Linked DNA regions of Homo sapiens: all the other regions are linked to region 1. The links come from fine-mapping of genetic effects on gene expression. A gene starts in region 1. Each other region holds a variant in brackets. All regions are shown on one strand. Distances are from middle to middle.

Evidence for each region.
Region 2: its variant is fine-mapped to the expression of MAN1A2 in skeletal muscle (FUSION, PIP 0.95).
Region 3: its variant is fine-mapped to the expression of MAN1A2 in lung (TOPMed, PIP above 0.99). The same link has a PIP of 0.9 or more in left ventricle.

Annotation. Positions count from the first base shown.
Region 1 is chr1:117,363,658-117,374,663 of GRCh38, reverse strand. It overlaps MAN1A2 (mannosidase alpha class 1A member 2), which reads right to left and starts at 7,215. Exons shown (of 13, transcript NM_006699.5): 1 at 6,179-7,215. The coding sequence starts at 6,480. RefSeq lists an enhancer at 6,150-6,289 and silencers at 7,160-7,979, 10,900-10,959.
Region 2 is chr1:117,453,965-117,465,115 of GRCh38, reverse strand. MAN1A2 (mannosidase alpha class 1A member 2) reads right to left here. Exons shown (of 13, transcript NM_006699.5): 7 at 4,504-4,627. Among named protein-coding and RNA genes, the nearest start is that of MAN1A2, 92 kb to the right of the region's middle. The variant C/A (reference allele first, on the strand shown) is at 6,604.
Region 3 is chr1:117,548,913-117,560,063 of GRCh38, reverse strand. It overlaps the pseudogene VPS25P1. Among named protein-coding and RNA genes, the nearest start is that of TENT5C-DT, 51 kb to the left of the region's middle. The variant C/T (reference allele first, on the strand shown) is at 6,058.

The DNA.
Region 1 (11,006 bases):
AACCAAGGACAATGGTGAAACTAAAGCCCCTGTCTCTTAACACTGAGTCCAATGTTCTTTCTAATATATAATGATGCCTTCCTTCTGGACTACATTAAATTCAAAAACAGATCATTGGAAAGAATGCCCTTTGAAGGAGATTTTTTTTTTAATGACAAATCCTAATACCCAATCTGAAAATAAAACTCCAGTGCAGACTTCATTACAACCATGTTTTAACAGGAATAAAGTTCTAGCAAAAATTCAATAGCAGTGAAAATAAACTTTTCTGACAGAATTTGCACAACTAGGGAAAATAAAAGTAGCAATATGATTTTCCTATCCAAGAAATATGTGGAGTCAGCCCAAACCAGAAGTTAATTTTTTTTAAAGAGGCAGAGCCTCTGTCTCTCAGGCTGGAATGCACGGACACAATCATAGCTAACTACACCCTCGAACTCCTGGGCTCAAGTGATCCTCCCACCTCAGCCTCCGACTACAGGCAGGCACCAACCACCATGCCCAGCTGTGTGCATGTGCGAGTATGTGCAGTGACAGGGTCTCACTATGTTGCCCAGGCTAGTCTCAAACTCCTGGCCTCAATCAATCAATCCTCCCACCTCCACCTCCCACATAAGTTAAATATTCTATAATTTTCAAACAATAGTAAACAAAACATTTGCCCAGTTAAAAATAAATTGGCTGCTCTGCCTATAATCCTTTGTTTCTTTCCTCCTCTAATAAACTTGCTTTCACTTAAAAAAAAAAATCAATTAATGTTTACCATGTACTACTGATTTCTAGAAGATACTTAGCTTCTGCATTACCAACTTTCCAATCTTAGGCATGAGCTCCAATTTGAAAGTATCCATATCGATAAAAATAAGATTCGGTTGGGTGCAGTGGCTAACACCTGTAATCCGAACACTTTGGGAGGCCAAGGTAAAAGGATTACTTGAACACAGGAGTTTGAGACCAGCCTGGGCAACAAGTAAGACCCTATCTCTACAAAAATTAAAACTTAACCTAGCATGGTTGTTCACACCTGTAGTCCCAACTCATGCCCATAGTTTCAGCTACTCAGAAGGCTAAGACAGGAGGATCACTTCAGCATAGGAGTTTGAGACTATAGTGAACTGTAATTGTGCCACTGCACTCCAGCCTGGACCACAGAATGTACCCAAAAAAAAAAAAAAAAAACAAATGCAGCAAAGGCATCTACACCAGTCTGTTGTTGACAAACGTCAAATACAAACAAACCTCACAATAATTCATGTCTGAGTAAAGGGAAGTGGGAAAAATAACCATGAGCAATTTATAAGGGAAATGGAACATCCAGCAGACTTTAATATTAGTGCATAAAACAATGTGACGTCGCCCAAACAGGAGCAGAAAGCCCCAAATAAAAAACAGGATAGAAAAAAAAGGTCCAGAAGAGGGATGAGACAAAGAAAGATGACAAGAAAATTAAAATTGCAATAGTGAGATTTGAAATCTCTACTCTTGTAACAAAACTGAATCAAGCAAAAAAAAAACACGAATCATAACATGAAGAACTTGAGAAACTCACTAAAGCACACTGCAGCCTGGACTAGCCACATTTTAAGTGCAATAGTCATATATAACTAGTGGCTATGGTACTGGACAGCGCACAGGTTTGAGTGATTACGTCTAGCACAATGCCACACAGCTAGTTAGTAGAACTAAGATGCAGCCTTATTTATAACTCCAATGCCTTTGAGGAAAGTATCAAAGGTAAACATATACCTGACCCTCAAGTATTCAATTCAGACTAACAAAGTTCTGACTGGAGGGTGAAACTTATTAGCTATTCAGATAAACAGCTCATAAGCTGGGTTTTTTTTTTTTTAACTCACAAAGCCCATCTATAAATGCCATTATATAAAACAAATGTCAGTTTTAAAAAAAAAAGTTTTTAATTATTGAGATCTATTATGTACACAAAGTATACTTACGTATATTACTTTATGTATATTAGCGTATAACAACATGTATATTATAACAACTTCTGGTTTTGGGTACTGCAAAATCATAGATACTATAAATAACCATAATCAACACCAAACTACACATTTGATATATCCTTATCATCTATAAAGTGTATCTACAGTGTTTGAAAATTCTGGATTATTTATGAACTACTTAATAGAAGGGAACATATTGGTTTCCTCATGAAAATATACTAAATTCATGTAATACCACTATTATCTATAAATTAGGGCATTAATTAAATATAGTATGTATTTCTTACTAATCCATGGCCATGTCACCCAGAAACCTAGACATTATCTTGGACTCACTTTTCTTTCTATTTTGGCCCCATATTTAACCAACCACCATTTTCTGTGAAACTTAATAGTTTAACACCTCTTGACTCAACCACTTTTCTCCACTAATTTATCTCATTCTCCACTATCACCACTGCGATCTAAGCCAATATATCCTCTGTGACCCAGCCCCTCTTAACTTGTTATCCTCCTGCTTCTTACCATCCAGTAAGTAATCATTGCAACCAAAGTGATTATTTAATTTTTTTAATTTAAAATGATCATGTCATTCCCTTGCTTTTATTACAATCCTTCAATAACTTCTCTTAGTATTTATGATAAAAACCAAAATATTTAACTACAAACTCTCTAGAATCCTGACTAGAATTTGCAAACTCAACAACAACCAGGTTAAATATTGATTGATTTGTATTTACTTATTTCGCACTCTGAGTGGCACATGCCCGCCCCCGTCCCCCTCCCAAGGGAGCAGCTGCTACTGGGTTGTGGCTTGAATATTACCATCTGAAAATACACTGGATGTTGCCATAACCTCTAATTTTTCAAGAAAGATCAGAAATCCAGACTTTAACATGAAATCTCCTGATCTGTGAATGCTGACAACTAATTCAAACTTTTGTAACAACAATAAGGAGGCCAAAAAACTTGTAAGCAGGCCAAACCTGACCTCTCATCTAGTCTCATCACCCAGACCCACACCCTCTGCAACAGCCATACTTAACATTTCTCAGATTCTTAGTGATGCCAAGCTTTTTTTCCTTAGGGCTCTCACACATGTTGTGTCTTCTGCTTTGACCCTCAACCTCCCCTCAACCTCCAATTCCACTTCATTAAGCAATCTCCTACTCATTCTACGTTTCTGAGGCACACTTTCTCAATGAAGTCTTCCTTATTCCCACTGCCCCTCCACCCCCAACTCTATAGACTAGGTCACACATTCCTTGCTCTGAAAGCACTGAGTACAACTTCGTAACATTCATCACACCTCAAAAACAAAATTATTTATTTAATGCCCATCATCTCTCCCTAGATTGAAAGTTTCATGAAAGCGGGGCCTGCCACAGTAGGCATACATTTGTTGCCAACCAGTTTGGTTATAAAATGTTCCTTTAGACAATAAGATCCTAGTATACTTCTAAATATTAATCAAACTGTACCCTACTTTTCAGAAAATATACAGTATTTAAAGGAAAGTAGATTCCGAATAAAAATATTCCATTACAATTATAATCACTGATGATAATAATAGTTAACATTTATTGATCATTTACTAAATGCCAGGAACTATGTTGAGTGCTTTGCATGTACTATCTCTTTCAATAAAACAATCTGTAAAGTAGATACATGCCACTGTGATACAAAGGAAACAATATAGAGTTTTAAAATTTCTCAGTATCATAAATCTAATCAGTGGCAAGCTAGGGTATGAATCTATACAGTCTGACTCCAGAACTTAAACACCAAATTATTATACTAATCTATTAATAAAGAAATACTAACTAAACAAGTATCTCTTAAGTACTGCAAATAAGAAATGGTGACCATGACTTATTTTCCATTACTTATTAGTTAAAGTAACATTCCTCAGCCCTCTATCCTGTACCCTTACACACACACACACACACACACACACACACTAAATGAAGATAAACTGTCAATTTGTTTCTTCTAAATTAGGTAAGTTCTGACCCATACCCAAAATACATATGATCTTAGTACCAACTGTAAAAGTGCTATTTTTCTGAATTATTTTTAAATAAGTTAATGTTTATACATTTGATGTTTTCTGTTTCCACATTTTAAACATACACTTAATTTAAAAAGTATTTCCTTGCTCAAAGTAAAAGAAAGTTTATTACTACAGACTCTTTTCTGATATAGTAAACAACAGCAAATAATACGCTAAAGCAAATGTCAACTGATATAACCACAGAAATACAAAGAGATAACACAAGGATCCTTTGCCACCTGAACTCTATTTGAATTCTCGTTTTCCAAAACTCAGGAACCGAATAGATTCCAAAAACTGCATTGGAATCTATCCAGACTCACATGTATCACTTGCTATCCAGACTCTTACTAGCCAAAACTCAGGGCATGGCTCACAAACCACCCCTGCTATCAGAACAATAACCAATCTCTCATTCCAAACTCAGGAACCCAATAGTTTTAGATAGCTAAATACATATGCATATATATCCAAGGGCTTCATAAATTTAAGAATTCTTGTTTAAACTATTTATACAGACTGTTAAAAATGTGAATAAAAGGCACATATCTGTATTTTCATTCAAATTTCATATTTTAACTCCATTTACTGAGAATTTTTGTGTAAATGTTTTTAAACTAAAATGTGGTCATATTATTTTAAACTTTTAGACCATTCAAAATGTATTTTTTAAACTGCTTAGTACATGACAGATACTATTAATAATAGAGCTAAGTAATGTTAATGTGTGGCTGTTGTGAAACAGCTCTAAAAACAGCCTTAACACATTTTTTCAATATATTTCATATGTTATACAAATACCATGCGAAATAAGATTTTCAAGGAAAACTACTTTCACCGTTAATTTTTCAGTAACATATTTCACAGATCATATTAGTGTTTTCTTAAAGTCACAACAAGCAAAGTGCAAAATTAAAGAAACAAATACAGGAGTACAGTAGTCGAAAATGGCAAAAATTCCAAATTAACTTAGTTACAAAAGAATGGCATGAAACAATATTAGAAGTAACTACTCCATAAAATTCATCCAAAAGTCAAAGAACCATCACACAAGTAATGAATTAACTAGGTTGAGAAAAAAAGAAAAACCAGTTCTCATAAAACAGTGCATTTTCCCAAATATTTAATGTAGGCTTACACGTGAACCTAAGCTTTTTCGGTGCTTGACAAAAAGTTAAAACTATCATCAGATGGGAAATGAATTCAAGCACATGATTTTTTTTCCCACATACTCAAGAATTATTTTAAGAAACAAGGAAAAGATGGCAGGTTTAAGAAAAGTCAACTACTTTCCCAAACTCTTGAGTACAAATATAAAAATTATAAAAATTGTAACTAGAGCTCCCATTTTATCCTAGTTTGGCTATGCTCTCCCCAGAGCTCACTTTAGATTTAGTGATCTGAAAGAATGTGAACCCCTTAATCAACCAAATTCCAATAGTTGCTTGACACAGTCCATCTATTACATTAAAAGAGAGAGCAAAATTAAGTTTCACAAAAATAAATCTTGTCTACAAGCCTCACAAAGTGCAATAACTTAGGATTCAATACCTTTTAACTTAACTGATTTCATATACAGCACCAACACACATCCCCAAAAAAAGAACAAAAATCAGGATATTTTCACGTTAAGAAATGACAGGTATATTCTGCCCACGTTTGTCATCCTAAAAAGCTGACTCACTACTAAGCTTCAACTACAAGCCAGAAAACGAGAGCCCTCTGGGAGAGCACACCCAAAAGAGCTGTCAAGGTTCGATGCTTTGATTTCACATGGTGGCACAATGACTGACTCCAACACGTTATTAATAAATGCAGGCACAGCTTATGTCACCATTTCTTTAGGTTAAGTTTTCATACCTCCCTTCCCAGATGTCCACATTAGACACAACTCTGAACGCAAATGTTTTTCTTATATAAAACCGAAGAGAAGAACGACTTAGGTAGGACTCCAGTCCTACCAGTCTATGGACTCTACCATAGACTGGAGGTAGAGTCCCTCCAGTCTATGGTTTTATTCAGCCAGTCTTGAAGTAACAATACAATATTTATGACTCGAAAAATTACATTTTACTGCAAGAAAAAAAAAAGACAGATTCGATCCAATCACCGTACCTTGCTCTGCCAAATGTTAGTACCAGAACTTCTGAAATAAACAAACCTGTGTCTATGTTCATCGGGTCCATGGATCAGGAAGACTCCGGGGTTTTTAGCCCCTTTACCGGCATCTACATGTGGAATTAACACATCTTCTAAACCCAAATCAAAGCGTTTGTGTTTTGAAGAGTCTGGAAGGAAAAAGAATGCCCCAAAACACAGAGTGATGAAGGCACTAAGAATAAGGAGAAGAATAAACTTCTCAGAAAGTCTCAAGGTAGCCCTGTGATGTGGGAAGGAAGGCGGCCCCAGGTTCAGAGGTGGTATCCTACGTCCAGAGAGGGGCAGCAGGGCTGGGGTAGTCATCGTTTACGCTCTTGGAGAGAATACTTTAGAAAGTTCTCATCTTATGTCAAATGTAGAATACATTGAACTGTCTTCAAAATCTTGGCCAAAATGGGAAAACTCAATTTTGCTCCTCTTAAAGGACTGTTGTGCTTTTTAAGAGGGCACGTCATTCACGCCCATCCATTCCCACTCAGAAACGTGTGTGACCTCCCCCAAACGATCACAAGTTTAGGTCCTGCGATATCCTCTTCAACATCTGTACTTCATCGGATTATTACAAGCCTCCTCTTCATTCCTAGGGGTAGATCAGGCAAGCCACACTGCAGAAAAGCTGCAAGGTGGGTTCTTCCATTCCTGCACCTCAGTGAGATGCTCAAACGTAGTCTTCCGCCCCGAAAGGGAGACTGGCGACATCCGAGGAGTTGTAGAAGGTTCACTTGATCTCCTTCGACGCTTCTATTCCAGAATCTCTTAACCTTAGCGGTGGAAAAAATAAGGGTCTCCCACGGACGTCTGCAAACAGGGAGGAAGGTCTCCCACTTCGCTGGGAAGCCGAAGCAGCGGCGCTGGGCGAAGTAGCAGGAAGGAGTTCTCGGCCGCCCGCGCTTCCCGGCGCTGCCTGGCAGGAACCTGGCGCCCGGCTGAGTCCCGCTGCTGCCCACTCGACGGCTGGCGCGAAGGGCAATAGCGTCCGAAACACCTGAGTCCGGCCAGCCGCCGCGGCCGCCGCCGCTGTTGCTACCGCACGGGTCTGTCAGGGAGCGGAACTTCCTCCTCCGGCGGCCACTGAGAAGCCCCGGCGTGTCCTGGGGGAGGGGAGGCGCGGCGGCCGCCCCCGCCGAGCTCCTCCTCCTCCTCCTCCTCCTCTTCCTCCTCCTCCTCCTCCTCTCCGCGGCCGGTTCAGTGAACCCCGGCGCCTGCTCCCCGAGCTAGGCCGCCGGCCGCAGTGGCCGAGCCCTCGCGCCTAAGAAGCCGAGCCGGGGCCCACGCTCCGAGAGCCCGGGGTAGGCGCCGGCTCATTCCTCACTCAGCCCTGGAGCGGCGGGAGGGCCTGGGCGCGCGGGAGCAGCCGCGCCTCGGGCGGGCAGAGGTCGGCCGCGTCTCCTTCCTGCCCGGCCGCGGGGGCCTCCTCCGCGCCGCCTCCGGTGGCTCGCAGCTGCTGGCTCTGGCGGCGGCTGCCAGAGAGGCAGCGCGCCCACGCCGCTCGGGGCTGCGGCCCGGTCCCCGTACCCTGCCTCCCCAGGCCTGGTGAGCGCAGCAGCTGCTGGGCCGACACCCGTTGGGCTCACGCCGGAGAGGAACCGGAGGGCGGGGGCGATGGGACCCGGGCCGGCCTACCGGCCCCGGCTCGCGAGTGGGCGTCCCCGGGCGGCGGAGTGTGAGGTGCGCGCGCACGCTCCCGGCTCCGCTGCCGCCGCCCCTCCCCCACCCAGCCTGGCTGCCCGGGCTCCGGCCTCGCGCCGCTGCCGGCTCCAGCAGCCCGAAAGCGTACTGCTGCCGCCGCCGTCTGAGCGCGAAAGAAGAGAAGGTCGCCGATCTGCGCTGCCACGAGAACTTCACCGGTGCCCAGGGCCTTGCCACCGCCAGTTCGTGGGGTTGACCCAGCGTTTGGGCGAGAGGGAGCGAGGGGTTGGGTCGCGAAGGTTTCGCTGAAATGTAGTGTCACCGGAGTTAATGGCTTCTGATGGCTTAGGTTAACGTTTACTGTGATTCTTTGGAAGTCTTGTCTTCAGCGATAGACCGTCAGGCCCGAGGATTCAGCAACAGGGTCTCAAACTTCCACGCAGCAGCCCATGCTCACGTTATTGGGCCCCCGAGGCTCGATTAATAGAGCACCAACATGTGCCATGTTACGTTTTTAAAATAAAGTGGTGACCCTGCTCCTTCAGCTGGGCTTCCTTTCAGAGGAATCTAGGTACCCCCGATATGACAGGCGTCTCTTCATTGTTCAGTTTCTGGGGCACGTTCTATCATCTTCACACACCTCATCAACCCCCTTCCCATAAAAGAGAAAATGGATGAATAAGGAGGTGCTGAAACCCAAAAAGGCGACAATATTGTTTACGTTCAGGCTTAAAAACAATCTGAATCAATTCTGTTCTCCGTAGTATTGAGGAGAGCCATGTTGTGATTAAGTGCAAAAGATTTCCTTGCAAGATACATAGACTCTTGCATCCGATTTACTTGCAGGTTGTTTTTGTTCTAATATTGTCATTCCCTGTACACATCCTTTACTGATGACTGGGAATTGGAGAGGAGGCCCTTAAATGTCAGGAGAGTAAGTCAGCCTTAGCTTAAAAATCAAGCAGAAAAGTCTCATGTTCATTGGCACACTTGTAACTACATTCCAGTCTCCCAGTCTGCATTATTTCTAGAAGCTCTGCATATCTAACTGCCTACCACATGACAAAAGTCATTGTCATTGATCCTGCTTCACCAAATAAAAAGTAAAAATATTGAGGGCCACCTCTCACCAGTTCACCCAGGGAGACTGGTAAGCAAGGAGTGCCCGGTCCCTAGTGAGATTTATGTTGAACATTTGTGAAGAGTAGATATAAGAAACTTTTAGCCTTCCCAATATGTCTTTATAAAATGTGCCAAATTTAAGAATAAGTCTCTAATGTTGAGACTCCGTAAGCCAAAGTGGGGGGGGCGGTGGGGAGGCGGGGAAGAACACACTGTTTTCCTACTGTTGAGATCATTAGTTTCCATGAAAAGTTCAGGGGAAATAAATACTGAACTCTGAATGAAATAGCAAGTTATATAAATCTTGAAAAATAAATATTACCTAGGTTAACACTAGACTTAACCACAAGAGATTTCAATCATGAAACCTGACATAACCTAGTTGACAAGTATAGCTTAAGCAAGTAAGACCTCATTGCTGATGGAGAAGACCCCTTTTCCTTTGCTTGTCTGTTTTGCAAAATTCATTTTTCCTTCATGAGAGTAAAAACAATTTAGGGGTTATTGCAGATGTCCAAATGCAGCCAGCAATTTTAAAGTCATTGATGATACCGTCAGTTATCACACTCCTACACCAGCAATGAAAATACTGTATACATAGTATTACATATATCCACTCTTCTAAAGGCAAGTCTGAGTTTTTAAAGAATCATGTTGTTTAAAAAAAAAAAAGTTGCAAATGTATCCATTAATTATAATTATATGCACTTAAAAACATAGAAAAAGAATATTTGAAAAAGATTGCAACTATTCTGTTAAGATACTGGTTTTACGTATGATTTTCTCCATTGTATTCTGTTGCATTATATTTACAATTAAATAAAAATTATAAAGGAACTGGTGCCTGAAAAAGTTAAGGTCAAATTTCAAATAGGTAGACTCGGTAGTATCAAGATGAACACACAGACCGGCCCATCTGAAGGCAATCGGCAGAAACAGTATGCAGCCTGTTCTATGTATGTGTGTATGTGTGTGTACACGTACAACAGGGAAGGATTTCATTCCAGAGAGTCTAAAAAGAATATTTCATTTTCAAAGAGTAGTTACCCTTTGATCAGAGATTCCAAAGTGATGATTTCCCTTTTACAAATCCATATAAATTAATATTTTAGAAATTAGAATTAATAAATTACTAACAAAATTTACTCCTGCAGATTTACAGGACCACTCCTAAGATCCACTCGTATTGCAATGTGGAAGTTACTTGTATTTGTTCAACCATGTGTTGACTTTTCTATTATTGAAACCATTTCACACCTGTTATACACACACGCATGCACACACACACACACACACACACACATACACCCCTAGCTCTGTTTTAAGTGAAACTGAAGTGCTACAGGAAAAAAATAAAAGCTGGTATGCAAAAAGAGGCTTTTGATTTACTTATGTAACCTGTTCCAACTGGTGCCCAAAATGTACAAGGAAGATATTGGAGGAGAAATTACTCGACGTGACCACTGAATGTGTAGGGAAATAACAGGCTTCAGCCTTGCTCCTTCCAATCTTGCTTTCCTCTATGAGGCATTTTCCTCAGAGGTCAGGGATAAACTGAAGTTCAGTGCTGTGAAGCCCTCAAGTAAGATCCGTGAAAGTCGGCAAAGCCAAAAAATCTTGGCTGCTTCTCTGAGCCAAAGTACGTGAGGCTCATTTGCTTATAAAAGACTCATTTGTTGGAGGACTACTATTTGACAAATCCTGTACTAGGTGCTGGAGATTTGGAGAAATAAGTCAGAATCCTTATGCTCAGTGAGCTTGCAGTCTAGTGTGGAGGAGTAGATGAACACTGACGATTACAAGACAGTGGGAAGAATGCTGTTGGAGCAAAGTGTCACGGGCTTTATGGGAACACTGAAGGTGCCACAGAGTGAGAGGAGGTGGATTGGGAAAGTTAGGGAAAGTTCCCCAATCCAGTGTCACCTGAGCTGAGCCTTGAACCATAAGAGAAGGGTCGTGCTCCAGCCTAGGGAGCAGAGCATGCGCAGGCACCCATAGCTGGTTTTTCCTGCCATTTACGCAGAACACTTCCTGCTCTACTCGTCCAGTAAATAGCTTGCCTGGCCCTAATCTCACAA
Region 2 (11,151 bases), 90 kb before region 1:
CTTATACTTTGTTACTGATATCACATCTTATTGTCTCTGAGCTCTTGTATCTCTGTTTATATACTTGTTCTACAGAGATGAAGGCTTTACTATGTTTTCTCTCATGGTGATATTTGCTTGGAATTTTCAATTGCTCTTTTACGTATTTTGTGCCCACAATTTTCCCTCCTTTTCCTTTTTTCTGGTAATATCTTTGTATAAATTCTGTACCTGTTCTTTTTTAACAAATTACTCATTACTATTTTCCTGAATGAAAGTTTTGACATAAAACACCAGGTAAGAGTCCAGACATAAATGTTTTTTTTAGACTTTGCTTCTCCCCAGCCACTTGAGATTGGAAATGCAGCACAATAGTGAATCTGTCATTCATTCCCTTCCCTCACCAAAGTTCGCAGGCGCAAACAGCTTGTCTGTGAGAAACCTTACTCGATTCTGTTTTTCCAGCTTCTCAACACATTATATCTAGTAAGGTCCAAAGAAGTACTCACCATTAGCCTGTGATCCTGTTCTCATTGCTGCTCATGAGAATTTGAGTTTTGTATGTCAAGTTACACCATCTAATTTAGAGAATTGTGCTCTACTGGCTTTGTATTTTTCAGTCTGCAGACCCAAACATCCTCTCTTCCATTTATACCAAACCTCTCTCTGATCTTTACTGCTTATATGCCTACTTTTCTTCCTATTTGGTGTTATGAAGCATCAAGTATCCCTTAATTTTGTTAGAAATGGAATTTGCAGTGTTCTGTTTCTTTTTTTTTTGACAGAGTCTTGCTCTGTCGCCCAGGCTGGAGTGCAATGGCTCGATCTCAGTTCATTGCAACCTCTGCTTCCCAGGCTTCAGTGATCCTCCCACCTCAGCCTCCCAAGTAGCTGGGGAGTACAGGCACGCCCCACCACACATGGCTAATTTTTGGTAGAGAAGTGGTTTCACCATGTTGCCCAGGCTTGTCTCGAATTCCTGAGCTCAAGCGATCCACCCACCTCAGCCTCCCAAAGTGCTGGTACTACAGGTGTGAACCACTGTGCCCAGCAGTGTTTCTTCTTCTTGCAGCTTTTAGGTTAATTCCTATGATTTAGGTCTTCTACTTCAGGAAGGCCCATACGTTAAATTATGTTTATTTTACAAATCTATTATCTTTTTAATCTCTGCTTTTCCTTTGTTTTGACTATGACTATCTCTTGCTTTTATTCCATGTAAGTAATTCAGTTTTTAACTATGTGCAACGAGTTCTTTGTTGTTTTCCATTAGCTATGGGGATACATCATTTTAGGTCTCAGCTTGTTTCTTTAGCTCCACAATATTTTTGTATCACTTTATTGTTTTATTTTGGTTCTGAGTTCTAACTCTGTTAAATTTAATTTCTATTATGGTATGAATTACTCATGGTGACTTTTTTTTTTTACTGTTTTTAAAATTTGAAACTGGATTCTTTATCAGTCTTCTACATGCTATATACCACTCTGCTTTTGTTTCTAGCAGTATGTTTGCACAATTGCCATGCTTTCTGTTTTATCTTGTTCACATTTACCAGGGTCAGTTCTGACCTGAACTTTGTTGATTTCTCCTTGAGTTCCTCGTGTGTGTGTGTGTGTGTGTATGTGTGTGTTTCTCCCTTCTTGGATACAATTTGAGATCTGGAGTACTAGTGTACTTCTACTTGATCACTTGAAGCCTATGTGTTCAGGAAGGATGAGAGGTGAGAACTCTGCTGGAGCTGTAGGCAATTACATATTTGACGCCCTGGGCACTGGTCTCCCTGGCAAGACAGATAGGGAATACTAGGAGTTGGCTGACTCTCTTTTCCCAGAAAGGTTTCAGGATACGGTAGGAAGCAGACTTATGTCTCATTCCAGAAATCAGAAATCTTTTCGTTTTTGTTTATTTTGGTTATCAAATATGACATGAAGTTACATTTTTTCCTTCTTTTATTGCCTTTGATGAATTTGTACTGTCTTTAATATTTTTATTAATATAATTGATATAAAAATAATTTTTAACATAATTAATATAAAAATATTTAATTTTTATTATTTATTTAGTCAGAACAGGGAAAATTATGTCATCTAGTTCCATTTTCCTGAAAATTCTTCTCTGTTGATGAAGTACTTCATACACAGAAAGGAATATACATATATATCTCGACTCTACTCACATCTCAATTTAAGAAATACAACACTACGAACACCTTTGATGGTCTGTTCACTGCCCATTCACATACTATTCCCCATATCCCAGATGTATCTGTAGTCTTGAGTTTCATATTTGTCATTATCTTGACTTTGTGAAAGCAAATTATACGAATTGGGTCATTCTTGTCATACCCAACTAAATCAGAGTCAAGGGGCCCAGCAGAAAATCACCTGCGGCACATAACACCAGCTCCAAAAATTACGTTTTCCACAAGCTCAGCTGCTATAACCCTAAGATTATAGTTTTATCTACTGCCATCACCAATCAGAGCCAGACAGCTTCTAGAAGCTTTACTCGTGTCAACACATTTCCTTTCAAAACTATACATAACATTTCTAATAAAACTTCCAACCTTCTCTTTGTTCTCTGGATGTACTGAGGACCAACCACCCTACTCTGTGTGTATGCCCTGAATTGGAGTTCTGTGCTTCCAAATAAAACATTTAATTTAGAGATTCATCTCTATATATTATTTTTACTTCAACAATTTATCAAAACCATTTTGAATCCCTAACCAATATACTGTTCAGCTTTGTTTTGAACTTTATAAAAATTGTATCATATTCTTTTAACTAACAGATATAAACATAATTCATTTTTCATTACTATTTTGTATTTTATTATATAAATTGCCAATATAAACAATGCTTCTACGTATACAATGTAAATGTACATACCGAATAATGGAATTGCTGGGTTACAGGGTATTTTTACTAGGTAATATTTTTTGTTTCCCATTGTAAAAATCCTTCTTTACCCCAAGGGCATATATTTTTTTATTCTCAAAGTGTCAGGGTTTTATATTTTAAAGTTAAGCCTTTAATATTCCTGGAATTAACTATTATAATCCACAGTGCGACACTTGTTAAAACAAGTTTCTACATATATGTAGGTCTGTTTAAGAGCTATCTATTCTGTTTGTCAGTCTGTTTGTCCCTATTAACAAATACTATACTGTCAATGTTGATAACTGGGCAATGTAAATCCAGCCAGTGTGTTTTTCCTCACAAGTGTCTAGAATGTTTCTTTACTGTATAAATTCTAGAAGTGTCTTTTCGAGTTCCACTGGGAGGAAAAAGGCCATTAGAGATTTTATTGGCACTGAATTTATGCTATAAATCAATTTGGGGATGACTGAAATTTTTATGATATTGTTTACCTATATATAAATACGATATCTCTCCATTTATTTATATCCTCTTCAATATCATTTAATAAAGTTTTGTATTTTTAAATTTTTATTTTTAATTTTTATGGATATAAAGAGTTATACATATTTTGATACTAGCATATAATGTATAATGATAAAATTTGAGTAACTGAAACATCCATCACTTCAAACATTTATCATTTCTTCTGTTGGAAACATTCTACGTCTTCTCTTCTAGCTATTTTGAAATATACAACAAATCATTGTTATAGTCACTCTATTGTGCTATCAAACATTAGATCTTATTCATTCTATGTAACTGTACTTTTGTACCCACTAACCAACCCCTTTTTATCCTTCTCTCCTCACTACCCTTCCAAGCCTCTGATAACCACCATTCTATTCTCTACCTCCGTGAGATCAATTTATTTTAGCTCCCACATATGAATGAGAACACATAATACGTGTCTTTCTAAGCTTGGCTTATTTCACTTAACATAATGTCCTCCAGCAGTTCCATCCATATTGCTGCAAATGAAAGGATTTCATTCTTTTCCATGGCTGAGTAAAAATTTGAACTTTATCTTTTGTTAGATTTATTTGTAGGAAACATATATACTTTTGTTCTATTACATAAGATATCTTTTTGCAAAATGACATTTTCTTGCCTTTTGTAGCTGGTGTAGAGAAATGCTACTGATTTTTAACATCCATATTGATCATCTATTTAAAAAAACATATTAAACTCTTATTTCTAGTAATTTAAATATAGACTGTCTTAATATCTTAGGTCAATAATCACGTAATCTGTGAATAACTACTGTTTTCTTTCCTCCTTTTCAATTCCTAAACATCTGGTTATTTTGTTTTTCTTGTCTTACCAGGCTGGGTAGGTACCGCAGCACAATGCTGCATAAAAATAGCAGTGAAATTTTTGAAAAATGTAACAGTGGTTATAACTTCTCAAATAACAATACATATTTTAAATATGTTCTAAATAGAAAGGACATTTCTTTGAGTAACTTCAAAAGAAAAAATAAAGGCTACAGCCCTAATAAACATATATCTAGAAAGGCAAACCTTTTAAGCATTAATCAAATCTTTGGGCCAATCTTAAAGGACTCTTTATAACAAACAAAGAATAGAAGGCAAGAAAACAAACCTTTTTGTAGTAAGTCAGGTCCCCTGTCAAGTAGCTGAGGTGGATGAACTCCATATGTAGTGTACCAAATTCAGCCAGAATGCTGCTACCTGCAGATGCCCAGCCCCAGTTTCGCCCTACTCCACTGAATGAAAAGGAAAAGTAAAAGGAGACACAGGATTGGGAAAAGACCAAAACATTCGTTTAATGAATATGTAAATTTTAAATAGATCTCTTATAAATTATTATATCTGACACGATAGCTTATTTATATCTAAAATTGTATTAAAAATTTAAATAGGTAATAAATCCATGTTCTAAAAATTAAAACAGTAGTTTTTAAATCCAGTAAATACATTTCACCCATTCTCATCTCCATTCACCTCATCAGGCTCCACAGAAAATCACTTTCATTCGTTTCTTACATATTACTACAGAATGTTTTATGCAAATGTAGGCAATCCAAATATATATGCTCATTGTCCTCCTTTCTTAAACAAAACATAGCAAGTTGGTGGTCTTTCCATATCAGTTCATAAACAACTTTCTCAGTTTTTTTTTTTTTTTTACAGTTGTACGGAATTCCATAATATTAATGATTCTCAAGTGGAATGCCCCACCCTAGAGGCACATGAAAATGTGTGGGAGCATTTTGAGTTGTCTCAAAATTTGAATGTGCAACCTCCACTTATTGTGCCAGGTCCAAAGTTATAAACTGCCCTGTAGTGAATGATCGGGACAGTATCATACAATAAAGAACTGGCTTGCACCAAACGATGATAGTGCCTGTGTGAAAATTAATATATTACATAAATATACACAATTTAATAAATTCCCTATTGATGGTCCCTTGGGCTATTTCCAATATTTTGTTACCATGAACATTTTTCAGTGAATAATCTCATAAACATTTCATTTGTGCAGATATAATCTCTAGAATATGCTCTTGCGTTTTATTTTTTTAATCTGTCTAGTAATTTTTTATCTGAAGGCAAACTACATAAAATGAAAAATTGTAGAGGCTTTGAATGACATTATCTTCTAAAAAGGTTAAATTTCTTCTGAACACAGACTGAGTAAATGCAGATTACATTGTGTTTTAGGTTTTGTTAAAAATAGTCCATTTCCGTTTTTACCCCAACTTCCAGAAATGGCCCTGGGAATTTCAGTTGGAAGCCAGGGGTATTTACCAAGGGCACCTAAGCAGCCTAACCTCTGTTTCCCCACTAGCATGTGGCTGTTAAATTTCCTCCTTAGCCCTTAAATTTCTTCTGCTATTTTCTGCTGGGTTTCTTTGAGTCTTGCTTGCCCCATATATGTGGTTATGGAATCACCAATGACTTCAGGGAAATTTGTCCATAAATTTTGGGCTTTTCCTCTGCAATTTCTTTCTATATGAGATTTTGTCCCTATGTTTCAGTCATTTTAGCAGCTCTGGGGCCTGACCATTGTCTCCTCTGCCCGAAATGACTGCCACTTTAGATATGGCCTCTATTGCTCTGAACATGTTTTAGAACATATCCTCAGGGAAAAAGCCAATGTTTATATGGCGATGACCTTAGGATCACAGCCCCTCAAGCTCTACCTAATTGCATTTCAGTGTCTTCAAACCATTTGGTTTTATATATTTTGTCTAGCTTTCATGACTGCTTTTGGTAGAAGGGTAGTCTGATAAACAGTATTTCCTGGTTGGAACTGGAAGTCTAGATGATTCAAGCAGCAGAGTTCCTGGATTATTCCTACAAGAACTCTAGACCATTCTCTAGGATCTTGTCTTATTTTTTGGGAGAAGTATAAATATAAATATTTTTGCCAGGCGCGGTGGCTCACGCCAGTAATCCCAGCACTTCAGGAGGCCGAGGTGGGCAGATTACCTGAGGTCAGGAGTTCAAGACCAGCCTGGCTAACATGGTGAAACCCCATTTCTACTAAAAATACAAAAACTTAGCCGGACATGGTGGCAGGCGCCGTAATCCCAGCTACTCAGGAGGCTGAGGCAGGAGAATCGCTTAAACCCAGAATGCAGAGGTGGCAGTGAGCCAAGATTGCGCCATTGCATTCTAGTTTGGGCAACAAGAGCGAAACTCTGTCTCAAAAAAAAAAAAAAAAATATATATATAT[C/A]TATATATATATATAGATATATATATATTTCTCATCTTATATTCACTTGTATTCTGTCAATTCAATATGTTATATTTTATTTGTGTTTAGAGAACATTAAAATAGATGTAAGAACATATCACAACCTTGCTTAAAGTTCCTTCATTGTTTGGTGCTATTTTTAAACTGTCTGAAAATATGGAAGGCAAATACCACTAGGATATTTTATAGCTAGAAGTGAGAATCAAAGAATAAATATGGATATAGTAACTACATAAGACAGTAATTCATTTCACAAATGTAAGTGTTTACTATGCTGTGAGAGAGTGGTGAACCTGACATATACTATTCCTGCTCCTACAATAAATAAGATCATTTTAAATAGTGATAGTTGCTGTGAAGAAAATTAAAAAGGAAAAATAGAATGTTGAGTACTAGAGATAGAAAGTGAGTTACAAAAAAGGCTTTTTACATATTATGTTCAGAGAAAATGTTTCTAAAATGATATGATTTGAACTGAGACCTGAATGATGAGGAGCCACTAATGAAAATATCTGGAAGAACAGAATTCCCAGTAAGGGAAACAGCAGATGTAATGGCCTTGAGGGAAAGGAAGGAGGCTAGTTTGGCTAGAGTTCAGAAAGTAAGGGGAAGTGAATGACACAGGATGAGGTTAGAAAGCAAGGTATAATCTGGACTATGAAATAATTTTGTAGGCCATGGTAAAATTTTAGTCTTTAAGTGTGATGGAAAGTCATGAATAACTTTAAGGATTATAACATAATACTTAAGGAATAAAGCATACCATTTAGAAAGATTAACTAGGTTTCAGCATAGCGGATGAATTATAGTGTGGTCAAGTATAAAAACAAAACTTAGGAAGTCCAACAGTTTGCCATTCTCTATAAAAAGAACATCTCGCCAAAAGTCAAAAAGTAACACTTTTCAAAATACTAAATTCTAAATAAGGTTTTTAAATTTTTTACATAGTGTCACAGGAAGAATCTAAAATATTAAATTTGATACTTACATATATCCTAGCAACTCAGAAAAATAAGAAAATCCCTAAGAACAAGATATAATGCTGCCGAGGACAAAATTTCCAACTATAAAATGATGATGAGCTGCCAAAAAATAACCGGATCATCATTTCATGCAAATGTTATGTTTTTTTCTCAACTGATCAAAATAAAAGGTCTGGATACTAAAATTTACGTATATACTCAGAGAACCTGAGTAACAAAAAATTTGCAATGAATACCAAAAAACAAAAACAAGCAAGCAAAACGTATGTTTCTCTTACCTGACCACCAGCAAAAGGAAAGATTCTAAAAATGTTTGGTAAACTCTTGACAGTAAATCACCCTAAGTGGTCTACAATCATATTAAATTGTTTTGATAATGAGTCTTCTATATTTTGGTTTGCATTTTGTTCAAAGTCAGTCGAATATATTTAATCAATGTATTGAAAGAATGGAGTAAAGCTTTCAGTAAACTGCAATTATTAGAAACAAAGCTTGCAAACACACTGATATTGAAATGCATTCCGACAAAAGCAAAGAATGAACTGAAGAAATTAAAACACTCAATGTGTAAGCTTAAGTTGAAGTATCTTCATTTGTAGGAATAATGGTTTGATGGAGCTCCTATTTTCAATTAGATTTATTTATATTGTATACTTCAATGGAATGAAATTGAGAAGCCCTATGATTCTGTATCATCTAAACTGGATGATTATTTAAAATAATTACAAATAAAAGTCAATGTAAAAATATCTCAGATTTGTGGAAGGTATTCTGAATGAAAGCAAAAGAATGGGATTTGTAAAAATATCTGGTCTGAAATATTTAAACATTTTAATATGCAAAAATTTAGAATTGAGAATATCCTAAAATTAAGCAGAATTTGCTCTGAGCAACTGTAGGGAGAATACCTTCTCTAATAAAAGCATACAAGAGTCAATTGAAAGTGCCAATAATTTCAAATTTAGATAAATACACAAGAATGTATGTTTTTAATAATTTCATTTTAGAAAATAGGTTTATAGCAGAATTATTTTACAGGATACCCAATAAAATAAAACCAATTTGTCAGTGATTAAATACTCAGAAAATTAAATAGTTTTAATTATTTCAGCTCCCCCATTCATTCTTAAATTGTACTCTTATGAACAACACACTATATGGTCATTCTCATTATATGATGCCATAATCTGGCTTATAAAACATTTTTAATATACTGTAAATATTTTATCTATGATATCATTTATGTGGCAACATATTGTTTTACCTTATGGACTACCAAATTTGCTTAACAAATGACCTTACTCTTGAACGTTCAACCTGTACTTATGATTTTGTGAAATACGCCGTGATAAACATAATTTTGTAGATGTCTTCCTTAGTCCATACATCCAATTTCTTCGGGCACATTAACAAAGGTTGAATTGCTGGGTCAAAAGAAACAAGCTTTAAGGGCTTTTGACAGATAATACACTAGTCTACAAGTAAAGCTGAAATGTAAGAATGGCTTTCTTCTCACCTTTTTATTATAGCAGATGCTTTAAAAATTTTTTAAGTAAAAACTTCCTTGTTTGACAGCAGATGAATATAACAGCTTTAATTTTTATTTTAAAATGAAGTCTGATTTTTGTTACATTTTCATTTAATTTGAGAGGATATGTAATATACTCATGATTTAAAATTTAAATGGCACTGAAAAAGCATAAAGTAAAAAAAAAAAAGTATCTCTCTAAGCCCTCTACCTCTTCCAATCACTCTCAGTACCAAAGCAATCTGTTAACACATTCTCATCTATCCTTCTGGAAAACTGCATAAGCATAATTTGAGTTGTCTATTACATTTTAAATACTCACTGGTCTCTTCTAATTTTAATTCTGTATTTTTACAAACTTTTTTCTAAATATGTTTTCAAAGTTAAGATTGTCCTTCAATTATAAGGTAATGTTATTTTTTGTTATTACACAGCCCCTCAGCCAAGTGTAGGATCTGGTTTATTTTTCTTTTTAAGTATATACTGACGTATAATTTACATACAAAAATGCATCCTTTCAGGTACACCATTCAATGGGTTATGACAAATGAAAACAAAGACTGGTATACAAACCAAGTCAATCCTTCCAAAACATGTCCTTATCCCTTTTGCAATCAACACACACACTTCCTCCACCAAGTCTCAAACAATTCTCAATTTGCTTCCTCTCACTACTGATTAGTCTTGCATGTTCTAGAATTTCATACAAACATCATACAGTATATGCTCCTGTGTTTGGCTCTTTCACTCAACATGTCTTTGAGATTCACCCATATTGCTGTGTGTCTCAGCAGTTAGATTCTTTTTATGGCTAAATGGTATTCCATTGGATGAATATGACAACTATTTACCTATATCCTATTGATGTGATAAACATTTGAAAAACAGTCAAACTGTTTTCCAAAGTGTCTCTACCATTTTACATCCTACCAACCTAAGTTTACTATCTTGCCTTTTCATTGTCTATTTTTCCCATTAGTTGTTTCCTTCTCTATTCCTGCCTTCATTTGGATTCAGTAGTTTTTAGTATTCCATTTTCTTTACCGGCTTATTTTTTTATGACTGCTCTAGGCATTACAACATAAACCATTAACCTTCCCACAGTAGACCTTTATATATTATACCACTTCACATATAATGTAAGGGCTTCACGTCTCCATACTATCCTCTGTGCTACTGTGGTAACAAATTTTTCTCCTATGTATACTATAGGCCCCACTATGCGAGTTATTATTTTTGCTTTAAACAAAGACCAAAACAGAAAAAATAAGCCTTTTATATTTATTCAAATATTTACTGCTTCCAGTGCCCTTCCCTTCTTTGTGTAAATCTGTTTTTCCATCTGTTGTCATTAGAAAGTTCCTTAAAATTTCTAACAATACAGGTATGCTGGCAATAAATTCTCTAAGCTTTTGTTTGCCTGAAAATGTCTTAATTTCACCTTTGTTTTTAAAGAATATTTTCAGTGGCTATAGAATTTGAGATCGACTTTTTTCTTTCAACACTTTCAAGATGGATTCGATTGTTTTCTGGATTGTATTGCTTATGATAAGAAGGAAGTATTTCTATTTTGGTTCCCCAATGTAAATGCCTTTCTTCTCTGGCTGTTTAACTTTTCTTTTTCTAGTCACAGATTTTCAGACGTCATGTTTCTTTATATTTATCCTGCTGGGTTCCATCAAATGTTGGAATCTGTGAATTTACAGCTGTTTAACAAATCTGAAAAATTTCTAGACATTACTTCTTTAAAAACAGGCATATCTCAGAGATATTATGGGCCTGGTTACAGACTACCTCCATAAAGCAAATATTGCAACAAAATGAGTCACACAAACTTTTTCGTATCTCAGTATATATAAAAGTTATATTTACATTATACTGTAGCCTTTTAAATGTGCAACAGCATTATGTGGAAATAATGTTCATATCTTAATTTGAAAAATACTTTATTGCTAAAAATGCAAATGATCATCTGAGACTTTCAGCAAGTCATACTCTTTTTTGATGGTGGAGGGT
Region 3 (11,151 bases), 190 kb before region 1:
CTGCACAAACTCTCTTCTCTTATCTGCCACCATGTGAGACATGCCTTTTACCTTCTGCCATGATTGTGAGGCCTCCTCACCCACGTGGAACTATAAGTTCAATAAACCTCTTTCTTTTGCAGATTGTCCAGTCTTGGGTATGTCTTTATCAGCAGTGTGAAAATGGACTAATACAGTAAATTGGTACCAGTAGAGTGGGGCATTGCTGAAAAAGATACCCCAAAATGTGGAAGCGACTTTGGAACTGCGTAACAGGTAGAGGTTGGAACAGTTTGGAGGGATCAGAAGAAGACAGGAAAATGTGGGAAAGTTTGGAACTTCCTAGAACTTGTTGAATGGCTTTGCCCAAAATGCTGATAGCAATATGGACAATAAAGTCCAAGCTGAGGTGGTCTCAGATGGAGATGAGGAACTTGTTGTGAATGGCTTTGCCCAAAATGCTGATAGCGATATGAACAATAAAGTACAGGCTGAGGTGGTCTCAGATGGACATGAGGAACTTGGGAACTGGAGCAAAGGTGACTCCTGTTATGTTTTAGTAAAGAGACTGGTGGCATTTTTCCCTTGCCCTAGAGATTTGTGGAACTTTGAACTTGAGAGAAATGATTTAGGCTATCTGGCGGAAGAGGTTTCCAGGCAGAAAAGCATTCAAGAGGCGACCTGGGTGCTGTTTAAGGCATTCAGTTTTATGAGAGAAGCAGAGCACAAAGAGCATAAAGCAGAGTGGAAAATTTGCAGCCTGACAATGTGACAGAAAAGCAAAGCCCATTTTCTGAGGAGAAATTCAAGCTGGCTGTAGAAATTTGCATAAGTAACAGGGAGCCGAATGTTCATCCCCAAGACAATGGGGAAAATGTCTCCAAGGCATGTCAGAGGTTTTCATGTCAGCTCCTCCCATCACAGGCTCAGAGGCCTAGGAGGAAAAAGTGGTTTCATGGGCTGGGCCCAGGGTCCCTGTGCTATGTGCAGCCTAGGGACTTGGTGACCTGTGTCCCAGCTGCTCCAGCCATGGCTAAAAGGGGCCAATGTAGAGGTTAGGCCATGACTTCAGAGAGTGCAAGTCCCAAGCCTTGGTAGCTCTCACACGGTGTTGAGCCTGCGAGTGCACAGAAGTCAAAAATTGGGGATTGGGAACCTCCACCTAGATTTCAGAAGATGTACAGAAATGCCTGGATGTCCAGGCAGAAATTTGTTGCAGGGGCAGGGCTCCCATGGAGAACTTCTGCTAGGACAGTGTGGAAGGAAAATATGGGGTCAGAGCCCCCCTACTGGGGCACCACCTAGTGGAGCTGTGAGAGGAGGGCCACCATCCTCCAGACCTCAGAATGGTAGATCTACTGACAGCTTGCACCATGCACCTAGAAAAGCCACAGACACTCAGTGCCAGCCCATGAAAGCAGCCAGAAGGGAGGCTGTACCCTGCAAAGCCACAGGGGTGGAGCTGTCAAAGACCATGGGAATCCACCTCTTGCATCAGCATGACCTGGATGTGAGACATGGAGTTAAAGGAGATGATTTTGGATCTTTAAGATTTGAATGCCCTGCTAGATTTTGGACTTGCATGGGCCCTGTAACCCCTTTGTTTTGGCCAATTTCTCCCATTTGGAATGGCTGTATTTACCCAATGCCTGTGCCCCCATTGTATCTAGGAAGTAACTAGCTTGCTTTAGATTTTATAGGCTCATAGGCAGAAGGGACTTGCCTTGTCCAAAGACTTTGGACTGTGGACTTTTGAGTTAATGCTGAAATGAGTTAAGACTTTGGGGGACTGTTGGGAAGGCATGATTGGTTTTGAAATGTGAGGACATGAGATTTGGGAGGGGCCAGGGTCAGAATGATATAGTTTGGCTGTGTCCCCATCCAAATCTCATCTTGAATTCCCACATGTTGTGGGAGGGATCCAGTGGGAGGTAACTGAATCATGGGGGCTGGTGTTTCACGTATTGTCTCATGATAGTGAATAAGTCTCATGAGATCTGATAGTTTTAAAAGGGGGAACTTCCCTGCACAAGCTCTCTTCTCTTGTCTGTCTCCATGTGAGATGTGCCTTTCACCTTCTGCCATGATCGTGAGACCTCCCCAGTCACATGGAACTGTAAGTCCAGTAAATCTCTTTCTTTGGTAAATTGCCCAATCTCAGGTATGTCTTTATCAGCAGCATGAAAATGAACTAATACAGAGGGGAAGTACTAGGTCATATGGGAAATGTGATGGGGTGAGGTAGGCAGAATTCTAAATGGTCCTTATGATCTCTGCCTCCTGGCTCTACACCCTCTCCTCTTGAGTGTGGGCAGGATCTATGACCTATTTCTAACCAACAGAGTACGGCACCAGTGATGGATGTCACCTCTATGATTATGTTACTTTGCATAAGACTCCATCTTAGCCAACTGGAATGAGAGACTCTCCCTTGAGCTACAGGGGCCTCTAGAAACTGAGAGCAGCCCCTTGCTCACAGCCATCAAGAAAGTGGGACCTCAGCCACAACTGAATTCTGCCAACGACCATGTCAGCATAGAAGAGGACCCCAAGCTCTGGAAAGGAACAAAAACCGATGGCAATTTTGATTCTATTCTTGTGAGGCCCTGAGTGGAGGTCTCAGCCAACCTGTGCCTGGACTCCTGCCTACAGAAACTGTGAGATAATTAATGTTCACTGTTGTCCATCACTATATTTGTAGTAATTTGTTATGCAGCATAGAATACTGATACATGAGGAAAGGAAAATCACATCAATAAATGGGCCACAGACCTAAATGGAAAAGCTAGAAAGTTACTAGAAAGAAACACTGAAGAATGTCTTCATGACCTTAGAGAAGAAAAAAATTTTCTCCAGAGGATTCAGAAAATATTAGCCATAAAAGAAAAAATTGCTAAATTGCAATTTCAGCAAAATTTTAAAAATTTTTCTAACTAAAAGACACAATTTAGAAAATACTTAAGTTACAGGTTGGGAGAAAATATTTGCAACACATAACATTGACAAATGACTTGTATGTGCATGCATAAAGATTCCTATAACTAAAGAATGAAACAAGTCAATTAAAAAGAACATAAAAGAAGAGGGACCAATGGCCAGTAAGCCCATGATGCCCATGACAAAATGCTCAACCTCATTAGGCATTAGGCAAAATGCAAATTAAAACCACAATGAGATATCAGTACATATCAACAGGAATGACGGAAATGAAAAAGACAATACCAAATGCTAAAATAAAAAGAGATCAACAACAATAAATGTTGGAGAGGATGTGGAACAGCTAGGATAAGATCTTATACATAGCTAGAGGAAGTGTAAAATGTGCAGTCACTTCACAAAACTGAAGTTTCTTCAGAGTTTAAATATCTACCTTAGTTTGATTTTATAGCTTACAACAATAAAACCACATGCCTTCATCAGTAACTAGCATTTGAAATGTGTTTTTTAAAATCAATGTTATAAGTGTACATGATAGAAGAGTCAGTTAGACTTAATTCAGTAAGACTTAAATGATAGAAGAGTCAGACTTAATTCAGTAAGACTTAAAAAAGAGGAACTATCAACTCCCTATTTCCTTTTCTCAAGAGGGAAATCCTTTCAATTCCATTAGTTTTCTTTTCTTTTTTAACTTTAACTTTTTTGGTTTTTCAGTCTAATTGACTTTTTACTAGTGAAGATAAGGATTTATTTCTGTTTAACCACCACTACTACATGACCAATATCTCTTCCCTTACCCTATTCTTCCAGTGTAGCTATATCTCAATTGTTGGATATTTAATATTTCTAATGTTACTACTAAACTCTATTAAGGACTGAGCCTAATAATAATAATACTAGCCACCCTATTATTTTTTCTTTCTTGCCCTACTTTTAGTTTTCTTTGAAGTTTCTTCTTTAATTATTTGCTTAGTTTTAATCTTAGCCTCTAAAAAGTAGAGTCTGAAGCAAAAATTAAAGTGCTGTTACTCTATTTGGGAGATGCAAATCCAGATCACTGAGGTTGAGGAAAAAGGAAGGGAGGCAAATAAAGACGTGAAGCAATGCAAAATGACATGTTACTGCACTTGGCTGCTGCTGCATAAAGAACCACTTAGTGACACAGCGGGTTGTTCAGCAGGTCTGTTCATTTGGCACCCGAGACTTCTCCAGATGGGTTGCAAGAATAAATCATGCTTCAATGTCCACCATAGAAGAAAAGAAGAAAAGTGATTTGTCCTCCAGGCTCCTTCTTGTCTCTGGATTCTTGTTTGGTAAAATTCATCTCATGTGAATGTATTCCCTTGTACTTCTAGATTGCATTAACCCAGTCCCTTCATGGGCTGCCCACTTGAGATCCTAGATCTCACACCCTGTGCTGTAGTGTTTTATCCAACCCTGGAAGAGACGGAAGGAGAAAAACTCTGAAGGAATGGCTAGTTGGCCTAGCTTCAAGAATAGCTACAAGAGATGTAGGGAGCTTGCATCTCATATAGTTTTCTATACACTTATCACTGATACAACCCCAGCTTTCACCTATCCACTGAAAACTCCTCTCAATCACTCAAATAAATGAGGGTATTCCATCATTTTCCACTTCCTGGAGCTCTATCTCTGGATCCATTTGACCATACTCCACTCTGGACTGGTTGACATCTATACTTCGTACACAGCTGTTATCCTGAAATCTCCTTTCACCGTCATTTTGAGTTTTTCTCCTTCTGTCTCTTAAGTTGAAACTGTTTCCTGAATTACATATCTTCTTCTTTTCAACCTATCCATCTGACAAATGGCTAATATCTAGAATCACAAGGAACTTAAACAAATTTACAAGAAAAAAACAAACAACCCCATCAAAAAGTGGGCAAAGGATATGAACAGACACTTCTCAAAAGAAGACATTTATGCGGCCAACAAACATATGAAAAAAAGCTCATCATAATTGGTCATTAGAGAAATGCAAATCAAAACCAAAAGGTCATACCATCTCATACCAGTTAGAATGGTGATTATTAAAAAGTCAGGAAACAACAGATGCTGAAGAGGATGTGGAAAAATAGGAACGCTTTTACACCGTTGGTGGGAGTGTAAATTAGTTCAACCATTGTGGAAGACAGTGTGTGATTCCTCAAGGATCTAGAACCAGAAATACCATTTGACCCAGCAATCCCACTACTGGGTATATACCCAAAGGATTATAAATCATTCTATAAAGACACATGCACACATATGTTTATTGCAGAACTATTCACAATAGCAAAGATTTGGAACCAACCCAAATGCCCATCAGTGATAGACTGGATTAAGAAAATGTGGCACATATACATCATGGAATATTATGCAGCCATAAGAAAGGATGAGTTCATGTCCTTTGCAGGGACATGGATGAAGCTGAAAACCATCATTCTCAGCAAACTAACACAGGAACAGAAAACCAAACACCACATGTTCTCACTCATAAGTGGTAGTTGAACAATAAGAACACATGGACACAGGGAGGGGAACATCACACATCGGGGCCAGTTATGGGGGTGAGAGGCTGGTGGGGGGATAGCATTAGGAGAAATACCTAATGTAGATGATGGGTTGATGGGTGCAGCAAACCACCATGGCACATGTATACCTATGTAACAAACCTGCATGTTCTGGACATGTATCCCAGAACTTAAAGTATAATAATAATAATAAAAAAATAATCCTTAGAGGAAAATTACCAAATTATCATTATTTCCCTATAAAATTAAAGAGGCAAAACACAACTAAGATAAGGTTTCTGCCCACAACACATTTACAGTTTTAAAAGAGATTAATAGGTTGGTAGGTTTAAGTTATACAAACATTAAGCAGTGACCAGGTACAGTGGCTCATACCTGTACTCCCAACACTTTGGGAGGCCAAGGTAGCCAGATTGCCTGAGCCCAGGATATCGAGACCAGCCTGGGCAACATGGTGAAGCCCCGTCTCTACAAAAATACAAAAAATTAGCCAGACATGCTGGCATGCTCCTTTAGTCCCAGCTATTCAGGAGGCTGAGGTGGGAGGATCACTTGAACCAGGGAGGTTGAGACTGCAATACGGCATGATTTTGCCACTGCACTCAGC[C/T]TAGCAACAGAGTGAGACCCTGTCTAAAAATAAATAATAAAAATATTAAGCAAAGCAAGGCATAATTTAGTACTAACTTGATTGATGCAGAACCTATAGGAGATGTGAAGCCACTTTCTTGGTTTATACTTTTGTTTTGGTAAAAGACCTCCTAAGAAATGGTGCATAGTATGAATAGGGTGCATATAGTTCAATTCTGGCCTTGGTATTAAGCCTCAGCCTTAAAAAGGCCAAAAAGCCAAATGCATACTTAAACATAATTTCTGGCATCTATAAATTTTTACTAATCAATAATCTTGTGACCTTCAGGGTTACCACCATATCTAATTAGTGCTGAATCATCAGTAATGTGAATAAGCCACACCATTCAAATTATTGCTAATATTAGAATATTCACCTTCAAATATCAGTAGTCACTTTAGATGACTTTTGGAGTGAGAATCTACTTGTGTGCTTTATACATTGTAAATCTATCAGTTACTTGAACATGTACTCCCAAACACAAAATGCATTTGTATTATTCAAAAATTGAACATCTGGTAAAATTTGGCTGTGAATTCATCTGGCCCTGGGCTTTTCTTGGTCAGGAAATTTTTTATTACTAGTCAATTTCATTACTCGCTATTGGTCTGTTCAGGATTTCTATTTCTTCCTAGTTCAGTCTTGGAAGGTAGTACATTTCCAGGAATGTATCCATTTCCCCTAGGGTTTCTAGTTTGTGAGCATAGAGATGTACAAAGTAGTCTCAATTGATCTTTTGTATTTCTGTGGTATCAATTGTAATGTCACCTTTATGATTTCTGATTGTGTTTATTTGAATCTTCTCTCTCTTTTTCTTGGCTAGTCTAGCCAGTGGTCTATCAATTATGTTTATCTTTTCAAAGAACCAACTTTTTGTTTCATTGATCCTTCATATCATGTTTTTTTTTTTTTTTTTTTTTGTCTCAACCTCACTTAATTCTGCTCTAATCTTTGCTATTTCTTTTTCTTCTGCTAGCTGTTGGTTTGGTTTGTTTTTATTTTTCTAGTTCCTTGAGGTGTGACATTAGGTTGTTGATTTTAGGTCTTTCTATCTTTTTAATGTAGCCATTTAACACTATAAGCTTCCAGCACTGCTTTTGCTATATCCCAGAAGTTTTGGTGTGTTGTGTCTCTTTTCATTTGTTTCCATCTTTTTAATTTCTGTATTAATTTCATCATTTACTCAAAGATCATTCAGGAGCAACTTGTTTAGTTTCCATATATTCAAATACTTTAGAGAGCTCCTCTTGATATTGAGTTCTAATTTTATTTCACAGTGGTCTAAAAAGATATTTCATATGATTTTTTAAAAATTTATTGAGACTTGCCTTATGGCCAAGAATATGGTCTATTTTCCAGAATGTTCCACATTCAGATAAGAAAAATGTATATTTTGCAGTTGTTGGGTAGAATGTTCTGTAAATGTCTATTAGGTAGGTCCATTTGGCCTAGAGTCCAGTTTAAGACTTTGCTGATTTTTTGCCTTGATGATCTGTCTAGTCCTGTCAGTGGGGTGATAAAGTTCCCCACCATTATTGCATTGCTGTCTCTTTTCTTAGGTCTAGTAGTATTTGTTTTATGGATCTTGGTGCTTTGGTATTGGGTGCATATATATTTGGGATAGTTATATCTTCTTGTTAAATTGAACCATTTGTCATTATATAATAACTTTTGTCCTTTTTTACAGTTATTGATTTAAAGTCTGTTTTATCTGACATAAATATAGCTACTCCTGCTCATTTTTGTTTTCTGTTTGCATGGTATAGTTTTTCATATGTTTATTGCAGCACTATTCACAATAGCAAAGTCATGGAATCAACCTAAGTGTCCATCTACAGATGACTGGATAAAAAATGTGGTAATTGTATTTATATATATATACACACACACACACATACACACACACACACGATGGAGTGCTACACAGCCACAAAAATGAAATTATGTCTTTTGCAGCAACATAAATGGAGTTGGAGGCCATTACTATAAGTGAAATAACTCAGAAACAGATAATCAAATACTACATGCTCTCACTTATAAAGGGAGCTAACCAGTGGGTACACATGGACATAGAGAAGGAACTAACAGACACTGGGGACTTCAAAAGTGGTAACAGTAGGAGGGGGTAAGGGTTGAAAAATTACCTGTTGGGTACAGTGTTTACTATCGGGGTGATGGACACGCTGGAAACCCAAACTTCACCATTACACAACATATCCATGAAGCGAACCTGCATCGGTACCCCCTCAAACTATTAAAAAAATTGAAATGCTATAAAAAGTAATGAGCAATTTTACATATGAAAACAATTATTAAAAACAGCCAAATAGCTGAATATATAGGAAACAGAGTGTTGATTTGAAGGTTAAAAAAGAGTGGATTCGTGACATAAACATAGGAAGAACTTCATATCCTTTTTGAATAAAATGTTAATTAAAAACTAAATGATACAAGAAAGAATAACAAAGATTAGATTATATCATAATTCACATCATTATAGAATTGTTTGAGGTACTAGCACTCAAAACACTAACAAAATAAACTTTAATAACTATATTTAACTTTTTGTTATTTCCCTTTAGGCCGAAGGTATTTCAAAAAAATTTGTCACAGCTTGTGAGGATATGCTTTGCCCTCTCAACATTTCATGAAAAGAAAAAACTCCAAAACCATGTACAACATCATCCATGATTAATCATCTTCAATGTAGACATAACAAAGATACAAATAATACATTTCACAATTTTAGAAAAAACTGAGGTAAACAAAACACATATTTTTCTTGCTGATAAAATATCAAAGTAACAGACATCACAAGAGTTCTTTAAGTTTTTTTAGTTTTGAGTCTTTGGAGGATAAAAATGTAAATAATATACTTGTTCAAAGAGTTGCAATAGACTATGATAAATTTTCAGTAATTAAAGATGATGGATTTTTAGCTGGGTGAGGTGGCTCATGCCTGTAATCCCAGCACTTTGGGAGGCCGAGGAGGGTGGATCACCTGAGTTCAGGGGTTCAAGATCAGCCTGACCAATATGGTGAAACCCTGTCTCTAATAAAAAATACAAAAATTAGCCGGGCGTCATGGCGGGTGCCTGTAATCCCAGCTACTCAGGAGGCGGAGGCAGGAGGATTGCTTGCACCCAGGAGATGGGGGTTGCAGTGAGCTGAGATCGTGCCACTGCACTCCAGCATGGGCGACAGAGTGAGACTGTCTCAAAAAAAAAAAAAAAAAAAAGATGATGGATTTTTGAGATTTGTTCAAGCTATGAATTCCAGATTAAATTAAATAAAAAGATATTTAAAAACACTCCTGATTATATTCTTTTATGCAATGGAGATATGATTTGTCATGCTTTGGATGTTAATATAGTTATATCTGCTTTCTTTTGATTAGTATTTCCATGGCGTACCTTATTCCTTCTTACTACTTTTTACATTTCTAATCATTATATTTCAACTGAATTTATTGTGAGCAGCATATAGCTCAGTTTTTATTGTCTGAAGTGGGGGCAGTTGAGATTTTAATAACATAAATCAATGTTGGGCCCTGCCTGTCAGTGCCAGGCCCATGGGCCTCCTATCTTTCTATTGCTTGGATGGCTGCCTGCAGCCAGGCTTCCCACATTCCCTAGGAAAGATCCAGCAGCAGCCTGAGAAGGGAGGCAACAGCAGCTAAGGGGATAGAAGATGGAGGAGACAGAAGCATGTGCAGGTGCATGTGTGTATGAACTTACATATGTGAACACACATAAAGTGTTAGGTTTACAGACCCTGGCTCAGAAGCAGTCTAGGATAGGAAAGGAAGTAGGCAAGCTTTGAAGAAGCATTTTTCTCTGGAGTGCCTCAGCCTCACCCTGTCCCAGGGACAGACATGTTGTGTATGAGAAACCCACCCCTGGGTCCCAGGCTTCAGGACTGGAGCCCTTTTGAGTCTGGTGGATTCACAGGTTCAATGTGTGGGTCCACCGAGTCTGTCTCCTCCTGAAAGCCCTGGAAAGGTGGGAGATAGAAAGTAAAAGGAAGCAGGTCTCTGACAGATGGACCTGACACCTCAGCCATCACTGGTCTCCGAGTGAGATGGTGATGATCTCAGCCTTATGTTCCTACTGAAGGGCCTGCAGAGCCCACAGAAGGCCTCCTTTAGTCCGTGGAACACCTCATTCTCTATGTCTTCCCCATTGGTCAGCTCATACAGGCTAAGTACGGAGTTGTTCTGGCCACTCCTGGAGACCCACTGATAGATGAGTTTTCCCCATTCTTCTGGCCTCCGCCACATGATTAGGAAACTAGACTTGCTCTTATCCAGCCACTGTAAGTTCCCATTCTTCCTCAGTTCCTCTAATACAACCTGGATTGATCCCACAGGAAGCTTCCACAGCTTGATGTTGCTGAAGAGCAGGATCTCCTGAGCATCCATAACCATCATGCTTGACTGTCTGTGCAGGCAGCAGATGGACAGAACCAACAAACACCAGGTGGCCAGCTGCTTCTGCCAAGTGGCCACGTTCAGCTGTAATGTAAAGGGCGGGAAAGCGATACTGCCACAACCACTTGAAATTCGTCACCATCATAATAGCCCAGGAAATCCCACTTTTTTTTCCTTTAATTTTTAATTTATGTTTATTTATTTTTTTGAGACAGAGTCTGGCTCTGTCACCAGGCTGGAGTGCAGTGCCGTGATTTCAGCTCACTGCAACCTCTGCCTCCTGGGTTCAAGCGATTCTCCTGCCTCAGCCTCCCAAGTAGCTGGGGCTACAGCCATATGCCACCATGTCCAGCTAATTTTTGTATTTTTTAGTAGAGACAGGGTTTCATCATGTTGGCCAGGCTGGTCTTGAACTCCTGACCTCAAGTGATTCACCTGACTTGGTCTCCCAAAGTGCTGGGATTACAGGCATGAGCCACCACGCCCAGCCTCACAGAACTTTTGAATCTGTTAACTGAATTTTTTTTTCACAGTTTTAGAAAATTCTTGGTTAGTAGCTCTTAAAATATTGCTTCTGCCCCATTCTCTTTTTGTTTTTCTGAGACTATTACATATTGTTATATATTAGACCTCATCACTGTATC